3 linked regions of the Homo sapiens genome follow. The protein of the gene in region 1 purifies or fractionates together with the protein of each later gene. This does not show direct contact. Each region holds a gene or a part of one and is shown on either strand. Other genes may lie near its edges.

Evidence for each region.
Region 2: the proteins of FAM234A (region 1) and UBE3C purify together in Homo sapiens (affinity purification with mass spectrometry; one large-scale study listed by BioGRID and IntAct). This does not show direct contact.
Region 3: the proteins of FAM234A (region 1) and PLXNA2 purify together in Homo sapiens (affinity purification with mass spectrometry; one large-scale study listed by BioGRID and IntAct). This does not show direct contact.

Annotation. Positions count from the first base shown.
Region 1 is NC_000016.10:237,688-241,338, forward strand, and holds part of FAM234A (protein FAM234A), read left to right. Parts: intron 1-2,522; exon of another isoform or gene 2,523-2,589; intron 2,590-3,651.
Region 2 is NC_000007.14:157,208,385-157,212,035, reverse strand, and holds part of UBE3C (ubiquitin-protein ligase E3C), read right to left. Parts: intron 1-3,651. UniProt on the Homo sapiens protein: E3 ubiquitin-protein ligase that specifically catalyzes 'Lys-29'- and 'Lys-48'-linked polyubiquitin chains.
Region 3 is NC_000001.11:208,038,384-208,042,034, reverse strand, and holds part of PLXNA2 (plexin-A2 precursor), read left to right. Parts: intron 1-1,976; coding exon 1,977-2,043; intron 2,044-2,267; coding exon 2,268-2,414; intron 2,415-3,050; coding exon 3,051-3,210; intron 3,211-3,560; coding exon 3,561-3,651. UniProt on the Homo sapiens protein: Coreceptor for SEMA3A and SEMA6A. Necessary for signaling by SEMA6A and class 3 semaphorins and subsequent remodeling of the cytoskeleton. Plays a role in axon guidance, invasive growth and cell migration.

The sequences.
Region 1 (3,651 bases):
CACCACAAAACCTGTTAATGAAATTCTTTTTTTTTTTTTTTTGAGACAGAGTCTTCCTCTGTCACCCAGGCTGGAGTGCAGTGACGTGATCTTGGCTCATTCCGCCTCCCTGGTCCAGCTATTCTCTTGCCTCAGCCTCTGGAGGAGCTGGGACTACAAGCACGTACTACCACGCCCAGCTATTTTTTTTATTTTTAGTAAAGACGGGGTTTCACCATGTTGGCTGGGCTCGTCTCAAACTCCTGGCCTCAGGTGATCCTCCCGCCTCGGCCTCCCAAAGTGCTAGGGTTACAGACTTGAGCCACCGTGCCTGGCCTATGTTATTTATTTTTATTTATTTATTTATTTTGAGATGGATTCTCGCTCTGTTGCCCAGGCTGGAGTGCAGTGGCTCCATCTTGGCCCACTGCAACCCCCGCCTCCCAGGTTCAAGCGATTCTCCTGCCTCAGCCTCCTGAGTAGCTGAGATTACAGGTGTGCATCACCATGCCGGGCTAATTTTTGTGTTTTTGGTAGAGACGAGGTTTCGCCATGTTGGCCAGGCTGGTCTTGAACTCCTGATGTCAAGTGATCTGCCCATCTTGGCTTCCCAAAGTGCTGGAATTAGAAGCATGAACCACCGCCCCCGCCCCTGTCCGAACATTTTTAAACCACTATGCAGCTTACCACTCCTGTGGGACAAGAGTGCCTGGTCCTATGATTTCAGCTGGGGTGCTGGCCGTAATCTCTGGGAATCTGATTAGTTAGCTAGGGCCAGGCCTAATTTATTAATGAATGCATTAATAAATTACTGTTCTGGCCAGGCACGGTGGCTCACGCCTGTAATCCCAGCCCTTTGGGAGGCCAAGGGGGGCAGATCATGAGGTCAGGAGATCGAGACCATCCTGGCTAACACAGTGAAATCCCGTCTCTACTAAAAATACAAAAAATTAGCCAGGCGTGGTGACGGGTGCCTGTAGTCCCAGCCACTCCGGAGGCTGAGGCAGGAGAATGGCGTGAACCCGGGAGGCGGAGGTTGTAGTGAGCAGAGATCGTGCCACTGCACTCCAGCCTGGGCGACAGAGTGAGACTCCGTCTCAAAAAAAAAAAAAAAAAAAAAGAAAAAAAAAATCCCTGGCTGGGCGTGGTGGCTCAAGCCTGTAATCCCAACACTTTGGGAGGCTGAGGTGGGTGGATCACGAGGTCAGGAGATCGAGACTATCCTGGCTAACATGGTGAAACCCCATCTCTACAAAAAAAAAAAAATTAGCCGGGTGTCATGGCACGTGCCTGTAGTCCCAGCTACTCAGGAGGCTGAGGCAGGAGAGTTGTTTGAACCCAGGAGGCGGAGGTTGCGGTGAGCTGAGATCGCTCCGCTACACTCCAGCCTGGGCGACAGAGCGAGCCTACGTCTCAAAAATAAAAAAAAAATACCATCCTGGCTAACACAGTGAAACCCCGTCTCTACTAAAAAATACAAAAAATTAGCCGGGCATAGTGGCGGGCACCTGTAGTCCCAGCTACTCGGGAGGATGAGGCAGGAGAATCGCTTGAACCCAGGAGGCAGAGGTTGCAGTGAGCTGAGATTGCACCACTACATTCCAGCCTGGGCGACAGAGCAAGACTCTGACTCAAGAAAATAAAAATAAAAATAAATAAAAATTGTGCCGGATGCGGTGGCTCACGCCTGTAATCCCAGCACTTTGGGAGGCTGAGGTGGGTGGATCACGAGGTCAGGAGATCGAGTCCATCCTGGCTAACGTGGTGAAACTCCGTCTCTACTAAAAATACAAAAAAAACTAGTCGGACGTGGTGGCGGGCACCTGTAGTCCCAGCTACTCGGGAGGCTGAGGCAGGAGAATGGCATGAACCCAGGAGGCGGAGCTTGCAATGAGTGGAGATTGCGCCACTGCACTCCAGCCTGGGTGACACAGCTAGGCCCCGTCTCAAAAAAAAAAAAAAAAAATTAACACTAATTTGTGGGGGAGTTGCAGGAAATCTGCCTTGGAATTCAGGAGAAAGGCTTACTCCATGGTATTTTCTGGACAGACTACAAAACTTATTCTGTGTAATAGTTGCCTATCAGCTGTTCGCCCTCAACTTATTTTTAGGAGGCATTGTGAGCCCTTCTCAAGTACTGTAAAAGTTTTTCAGTTCTGCAAAGGAAAGGAACTTGTGTTTGGGCTTTTGAGTGCTGACTGCATGTGCTGTGATACTTTTGCCTTTGTCATGGAACCATGATCTTTAAAGTGGTTCTGGAAAAATGGTTATGGGCCTGTTCTTTGTCTTGAGATTATTCTTGGTGGAGAGAGAAATAGCTGCTTGCTGTAAACAACTGGACACAGTAGCTGTCCTTGTCTGACATCTGCTTTGCTCAGCTGAAACATCTGCCTCATTGGCTGTTGTGGGTGTCTCTGAAGCTCATGTTGAATTGCTGTCAAATGCCCAGCGTGTTCTTGGTGGTGACACAGCCACATTGTGTAAATACATTTCTTAAGTCATTTGTGTGTATAGCAGCTGGATTTGGGGACAAGCATTTGGGCACACTCGCTACAAGATTGGTTAGTGATTATGGATGATGAAGTCTGTCGGAAAATTCAGATCTTGATTGTGAGTTATCTTACTTGTCTTTTAAGTTCTCTTTCATCCATTTGGCTCAGGGGACACAGCAGACATCTTCCTGGCCTTAAATAGCTTTCTTTCTGCCAGGTAAGAGAAGTATGATGAGTGCTTTGAAAGAAAAATACTGAGTTCTCTGGGGTGGAGTGTGGTTAACCAGGGTCAGTGGGGGTCACCCCAAACTTATTTAAGGCTTGAGCCGCTGCATCTGGGTGTATTTTTTTTTTTTTTTTTGAGACAGAGTCTTGCTCTTGTTGCCAAGGCTGGAGTACAATGGTGCGATCTCAGCTCACTGCAACCTCTGCCTCCTTGGTTAAAGCGATACTCCTGCCTCAGCCTCCCTAGTAGCTGGGACTACAGGCGCGTGCCACCACGCCGGCTAATTTTTGTACTTTTAGTAGAGATGGGGTTTCACAATGTTGGCCAGGTTGGTCTCGCACTCCTGACCTCAAGTGATCCAGCCGCCTAGGCCTCCTAAAGTGCTGAGATTACAGTTGTGAGCTACCACACCCAGCTGGGCTTATTATTTTTAATCCATTGACAAAATCTTTTCAGTTTCTGTTTCTAACTGGTGAAACTAGATAGTAACATTAATCTATAATCATAGTTTTCCTCTAAATATTAACTAAATATTTTATCCATTTAAAACACTGTTTTCTTCTCTTTTTTTTGAGACAGGGTCTTGCCCTGTTGCCTAGACTGGAATGCAGTGGTGTGATCTCCGCTCACCTCCCAGGCTCAAGGGAACCTCAGTCTCTCGCACAGCTGGGACTAGAGGCACATACCACCATACCCGGCTAGTTTTTGTATTTTTTTGTGGAGGTAGGGTTTTGTCATGTTGCCCAGGCTGGTCTCGAACTCCTGCGCTCGAGTGATCTTCCTGCCTCCTGCTGTAGCCTCCCGAAGTTGCTGGGATTACAAATGTATGCTACTGTGCCTAGCCTTAAAACACTTATCTTGACCGCAGAGGAGGTCTACACAAAAAGAAAGAAAAAAAAAAAGCTGTCTGCTTCAGGCTGGGCACGGTGGTTCACACCTGTCATTCTAGCACTT
Region 2 (3,651 bases), on another chromosome or scaffold:
TATAAAAGTAACATGTCAGAAAAAGCTCTAAGAACATGACCTCGTTGGAAAACAACCGTTTTCCTCAAGTGAGTCAAGTGCCAGATGACGCAGCAGCTGGTGCTTCTCTCCTGTGTGCTTCCACAGGACCGGCCTCTGTGGTTTGCTGTTTCCCACTGTCATTAGCTGAATGCATGTCTCCTTCACTACGTGGTGATACTGCAGGAACAGGCACCCTGTGTGAATTCATTTATGATCCCTTAGCATAGAGCTGTGTCACTATGGGTGGGATGAATACTGTGAGTGTTCAAATAACTGAGAATAAAACACTCTAACCTATGAAAGTCATGAAGTATCTGGTATGCACTGCTGCTGTCAAGGGTTAACCAAATTTTATATAGCCCTTAGTTACCACTTGTTAACCCATTTATGCCTAGTGTTCCATTACTGGAACGCTAAGCTTGTGGGATTTATATTCTACTGCTCAAGGTCATTGCCAAGGCCTGATTTTTCACACAAAAAATTCGCAACCTCTGGCACAAACGGGTTAAAAACTGGAGTATTTTGAAAAACAGTATTCTTCAGCACATATTTAAAACACTATAAAATTACTGCATATAGCATCCACTTTAGTAGTCAAAAAACAAAAACAAAATCAATCAAAATCTTCAATAACAGAAAAGGATAAGGCACAGCGCTACAAGCTTTGGATCTCTTGGTTGTAACATAGTCAAATGGTCGCATGTTAGGATTATATTAACAGGGCACTGCTGTTGCTTTATTACTTTTTAAAAATAGCTTTTTGGAACTGAAAAAATACAACTTAACCACTAAGGAAGTAAAAAAATCACTCATAGTATGGCTCTCTCTCTCTCTCTCTCTCTCTCTCCAGACATATGGATAATGAGGGCATGGGAACCTTCCTCCTCATTCCCTGCCACTTCCTCCTGTTTCCCTATCACAGGAGGAAACTCCTGTTAAGTTTGGTGGATGCACACAGACATCTCAAAACAGGATTTCCTATCTCATCAAGCTAAAGTAATTATAGCTCTAAATTACACTTCAAGAGGAGTTTATAAATTTGATAAATGCATAAACTGTTTTAGCAGTGTCAAGACAGGGCTTAGAAAGTGACCTCAATTCTTACAGTGACAAAGAAAGATGACTCTATCCACTTAAAATTCTATGCTCTGTGACCAGCCAGCAGAGCCTCTCACACAAATGACTTTGGGAGGACCATGATAGGACTGAAAAATGAAAATGGTCGGTGTTGAAGGAGTCAGGTCTCATCGTTTGCAATTCTGTCAAAATCAATGGAAGGCAGGAGATCATGGGCTAAACGCTTCTGCGTTCTTTGGTTGATTCTACCTCGAATTCTTCAACTCAAATTTGGCACAACAATAATATGAAAAATGCTGATACAATTTGTATTCTTTTCAGAAGGGGAGTGTAGAATAGCAGCTGGTTCTACCATCATATACATGACCTCATCTGTAAAACAAATTATAGTATCTTTCTCACAGAACTATTGTATTAAATGAATATATGCAAAACTCTTAGAATACTGCCTAAAACACAGTTAACTACAGAGGTGTAAGTTCATACAACTTCATAATAGAGATAGTATTTTCTTAAAAGAACAGCTAACAGCAGCTGATTACTCAAAAATTATGCAGTGATTTTTATTTTGGGGGCTCAGCTCAATAGCAGGTAGCATAAAATGGTTTGGGGGACAGGTGACCAAAGAACAGAAATCCTTTAAAAAAAAAAAGGTCTTTAAACAATTCTAAACTCAAAAGGTCTTACAACAACTTGATTTCAAACCTAAAACAATCACCACCACCAACAAAAAAAAGGTAAATTTTCACCCTCTTTTTTTTTGGAGAGAGAGTCACCCTACCGCCCAGGCTGGAGTGCAGTGGCGCTATCTCGGCTGACTGCAACCTCTGCCTCCCGGGTTCTAGCAATTCTCCTGCCCCAGCCTCCCTAGTAGCTGGGATTACAGGCGTACATCACGCCCAGCTAATTTTTTGTATCTTTAGTAGAGATGGGGTTTCACCATCTTGGCCAGGCTGGTCTCAAACTCCTGACCTCGTGATCCACCCGCCTTGGCCTCCCAAAGTGCTGGGATTATAGGCGTGAGCCACCACACCCGGCCTTGCCCTAACTCTTAAAACTTTCAATGATGAATAAAGTGGCAGGGAGTCATTTTGAGGCATAAAAAAATTCTGTACAAACTTTTCATTTAACGCTTAACCAAAACAAAATAAGGCCAGGGTGGAAAATATCTTATATGGCATTATTAAGTTCAGAGATTTCTACATACTAAAGATAAGCCTGTCATGGAAATTATGAAACTCTCAACAGATGCCATAAAACAGTGAAATTATCTGATATCATACACAACACCTGATATTGCACATCATGGAAAGCTTTATTAACAAAGACCCCAGGGTTTAATCAAATATTGAAAGGAAAACAAATATGCTACCGTTAACACCCACATCCAGGAAAAGCTTATGTAAGAATTATAAGTTTTAAATAGGTGAGACTGCTTATTTTTTAACATAGAAAAATTGCAAATTTGTCAATCTTTAAGAAAGGATATAGTAAAGGCTTACCATGTGACCGTCCCAGTTTACTTAGGAATACAGAAATAGGTAATTAAAATAAATTGTGCAAACATATATTACATCAATCTGCCCAAATTATAAATTCAACGATGCATTAGGACTGTATTCAGTGCAATCAAAACATTATCAGTTACGGCTGCTGCTGCTAATGCTCATGCTCCTAAGAGAAATGTGTTGTAAAACCAGGCAGAACGGGCTGGAGAGAGACTCTCGTGGACTTGGAGGATGAATAAGCATTCCTTAATTAGCCCATCAGGTTAAGTGCAAGCATTAATGGGCCCTTCCTAAAGTCTAGCTTGACATCTTTCTCCAAACATGGCCAAGAAGAAAGTTCCATTAGCAATATTAATACAAGCTTAGTTGATCATTTTCATTCAATTAACTTCTTTCAATTAAATAGATAGCTTGACAAAAGCAGTGATAAAAGACCCAAAGGGACAGCTGATGACTCGAACTGAACATTAGTGTGCGAGAGGTCGCTGGTATTAAACGGACTGTAAATCTAGCATTCAATTTGGAAAATGCATTTCTTCTGCTCTCACTCCTTTAATGAGCAATTTTAGCTGACTAGATGTGTTTGCTGCAGAAATTTCATGGGAAGTCAAGCACCCTTTTCCTTTTCTTTTTTTCCATCCCAACAGTTACATTCTCACTGGTGGTGGTTTCCTGCCAACATTCCAGCCACAGTAACTCAAAACTTCACTTTCTGGTTAAGAACGAAGATATGTTAAAATAATTTATATACAACTAGCATTAAAAATTAATGACCTACTTTACGTTGTTAATCAATTTTTGAAAGGTTTGAAAAAACAATAAAATCTAAGAAATATTTAGTGAAAAATAAAAACATTTTAAAAACTGTATTTATATTTCATCGTGTCACAGTTAAGTAGTTAGGGCCACATAGAAAAGATGCATGTAACAAGGTTTAAAAACATGGTTTTAAGTGAGGCAAATGTAAATTAAAATGAAAGTAATTTTAGTTAATTAAATTACCTTAATTAATCAAAAGTACTAAAATTACTTTTCTTAATTAAAA
Region 3 (3,651 bases), on another chromosome or scaffold:
TATAGCAGGCCCCACAAGCAGCATGAGAAGGCCCACTCCCCAGAAGGGGCACCCATTCAGAGCAGCCTGTGTCCTCACGTCTCTGCAGGGCAGAATCTGACTTTCCCTCAGCCCAGGGAGACTACAGAGTCTGAAGTCACCCAGGTGTGATGGATGAGCTCAGACCCTTGCTCGGATCTCAGCTGGAGTCCCAGCTCTGCCTCCTGCTAGCTCTGTGATTTCTGGCCAGTGTTGTAACCACTCTGTTGTTTAGTTTCCTCCTAGACAAAATGAGAAAAATAATTCCTATCTCACAGTCTCTTCCTCCCGGTGCCTCTAGAGCTGTGCTGTCCGGCACAGCGGCCCCTAGCCACAGGTAGCTGCTACAAATTAAAATGAAATAGAATGTAAAATCCAGCTCCTCCATTGCCCTAGCACCTAGCCGCTTTCTAAGTGCTTGGTTGCCACATTGCAGCTAGTGGCCACCATACGGGACCGCACAGATAGAGAACATTCCCATTATCGCAGAAGGTTCTATTGCGCAGCACTGAGCTAGGGATTTGGACAGCCTAGAAGGCCGTGCCTTCTGAGCTCAGCTTCCTGGATCTGAATCACAGCATCCACTACACATGCCCACTGCATTTTTCCTGGCAGGGGAGAGGGTTGGAGACCTCAGTATCCCCTGAGCCCACCCTCTCTAGAGGCCGTGGGGAGCCGGGCACAGCTTTGGAGTCCTCTGGGCAGCAGGGGCTGGAGGGCTGCACCTCCGTTCACCACCCCTCCTCTTTAGCCTTCCTCTAGCAAGGTCTCAGGCTTCCAGGCCCCACGTGGGGTGAGGAGGGAGGAAGAATGGCTTTGCTTTATGAGTACTGAGCCCCCATCCTGCCAATCTGAGCATTAGAAACTCTCATTAAGAACTGTTGTATTTAAATTAGAGCTAATCTCAAGCACAATGCAGGGAGAGGGTGCTGGGAGGAGCCACGGGAGAAAGCTACAATTTTTTCTGCCATTGTCACTCTCTCCCAGGCCCAGATTGCTGAGCAGCCCTGGCAAATGCCTGGGATTTACTGCAACCAGAGGATATAATTTGCACCACGTGCAGGGAGTTAAAATACCCCTCCGGCATCCCCTTCACTGAGGGTCTGTCACAGCCGCTTTGTTCCTTCCCAAATCCCCAGATCTGTAGCCCTGGGATGGGAAGGGGAGGGGGGCCAGCCCTTGCATGAGCAAATCCCCTGTTGGCAAAACACTTAAGCACTGCTCTCTACCTGAGGGCTGGGATCCAAGACCCCACATGACAGCAATAATGACAGCTAATGGATAGTGCTTAGCAGGTGCCAGGCACTTTTCTTAGCACTTTACAAATATTAACTCATTCAACCCTGACAACAACCACTGGGGTTGGATGTTATTATGACTGTCTCCATTTAGTGATAGGAATACTGAAACCAGAGAGGTTAAATGACTTGCCCAAGGTCACACAGCCAACGTATGGCAGAATCAGGATTTGAACCCAAGGAAGTCTAACCTTGAGTGTTTTTGGAGGGGAAGGGACCAGGCACCTTCCAGATAGGCAAAACAGGGTACTCACACATGCAAGAAAGCCCAGAGGGACTGGGAAACTCTCTAGTTATCACCCTGAGGCCAGAAGTGAGTTGGGAGAACCGGTTCTTTATAGCCCTGTGGGATAGTGAGGTGCCTTTATCCACAGACCCTGTCTCAGATGCAGCCAAAGTTCAGAGCACCACGGACCATCAGGGCTGAAAAGGCCAACCTCTCCATTTTCATAGGAAATTGAGGCCCAGAAAGAAGCCACCCCTACCCCCAGGTCACAGTCTAGTTACTGGGTGAGCTGGGCTGGGACCCAGGTGTCCTGACTCCCGCCCTGCGTTCTCCCATGCTCCATTGTTCTCTTGGGAGACCTCATGGCAAGCCCAGGCCCCACCACGGAGACCCCTCTGTGAAGGACTGCCCCTTACCCTTTGTCCCTTCCCCAGGACAGAGTCTGTGGCTGAAAAGATGCTGACCAATTGGTTCGCCTTCCTCCTGCACAAGTTCCTAAAGGTGAGAAAGGGAGTGAGACGGGGCCTAGCGTCCAGGGCAGGATGGCACTGCTGCTTAGATCCTGGCCACAGGGCTGCATGGGGACCCCCTCCCTCGGGAGCAGGAACCTGGACTGGCTGTGCTAAAGCCCTTCCTTCCACTGGCCTCGCTCCGAGAGAGGAAAGGGAAAACGTACAAACCTGAGGAGGCCGTGCCCACACCTCCTGCCCTGTCTGTGCCCACAGGAGTGCGCAGGGGAGCCACTCTTCATGCTATACTGTGCCATCAAGCAGCAGATGGAGAAGGGCCCCATTGATGCCATCACGGGCGAGGCCCGCTACTCCCTGAGCGAGGACAAGCTCATCCGGCAGCAGATCGAGTACAAGACCCTGGTGAGGAAGCCGGAAGCTCCGGGCCCGCCTGTGTATCTTCTACTTCTGCCCCTTGCTCTGCCTTCTGTCCATAAAAGCAGTCTAGGGGGTCAATAAAGAGGATGGGAGGCTGGTCTGGGGTGAGCCCAAAGGACAACTAAGTGTACCAAGAGCAAGGTGGCAGGCCCGCCCACCCATCCCAAGCACTCTATGCCTCGGTTTATCCTAGATAATATTGGGGGAGAAAAAAGTTCACCCATCATTAGTTATTGGGTAATTGGTATTATGAGAAAGATGTATGTTGGTTCCTAACATAGAGGCTTTGGGGAAGTGCATGACTAGTCTCTGATACATGTAGAGCCATCTCTAAACACTGAGGGTGCCTCATTCCAGGACTATAGTCTCCCCTAAGCTGTCCAGGAGCTAGAAAGTAGAGTCCTGGTGCTTTGAGAAAGAAGAATTGGACACAATGACTCAGACTCTCATTTGGCAGATGTTATGAAGGTGAGGGAAACTGAGTCACAGACCAGAAAAGTACCCTTATTTCCCCTATAAGGAGGGTGAACTTTGGAAAAAGAAGATTCTGAGGTCCTGACCCTCTCCCTCAAACTACTCCTTCAACTCCTGTCCTGCTCACCCTCTGTCCCCTACTTGTAGATCCTGAACTGCGTCAACCCTGACAACGAGAACAGTCCAGAGATCCCAGTGAAGGTGTTAAACTGTGACACCATCACACAGGTCAAGGAGAAGATTCTTGATGCCGTGTATAAGAATGTGCCCTATTCCCAGCGGCCGAGGGCAGTGGACATGGACTTGGGTAGGAAACCTGGACTCAGAGTGTGAGGGCAGGGGTTGAGAGGTGAAGGAAGGGAAGCTGCCATGCACACAACCCTTGCAGGGGCATGACTGTGTCCTGGCCAGCTGAGGCCCGTGTGAAATGCTTCCCGCTTTGAGCGCTGCCTGTTCAGATGTGGCTGTCTCTGGGGAGGTCTACGTGTTTCCTCTGCTGCCTGGGCCCATGGAGCCCTAGATGTCTCTAGCCTCTGTTATTGGTACCAGCTTGAGGGGGCCGGGTTGCCAGGTCCCTAGAGAAGGTGCAATCGGGAGACACTGGCTCACAGCCCTCATCCCTCTCACGCCGCTCCCTGCACCACCCCCTCCACCCAGAGTGGCGCCAAGGCCGGATCGCCCGGGTCGTGCTGCAAGATGAGGACATCACCACCAAGATTGAGGGTGACTGGAAGCGGCTCAACACACT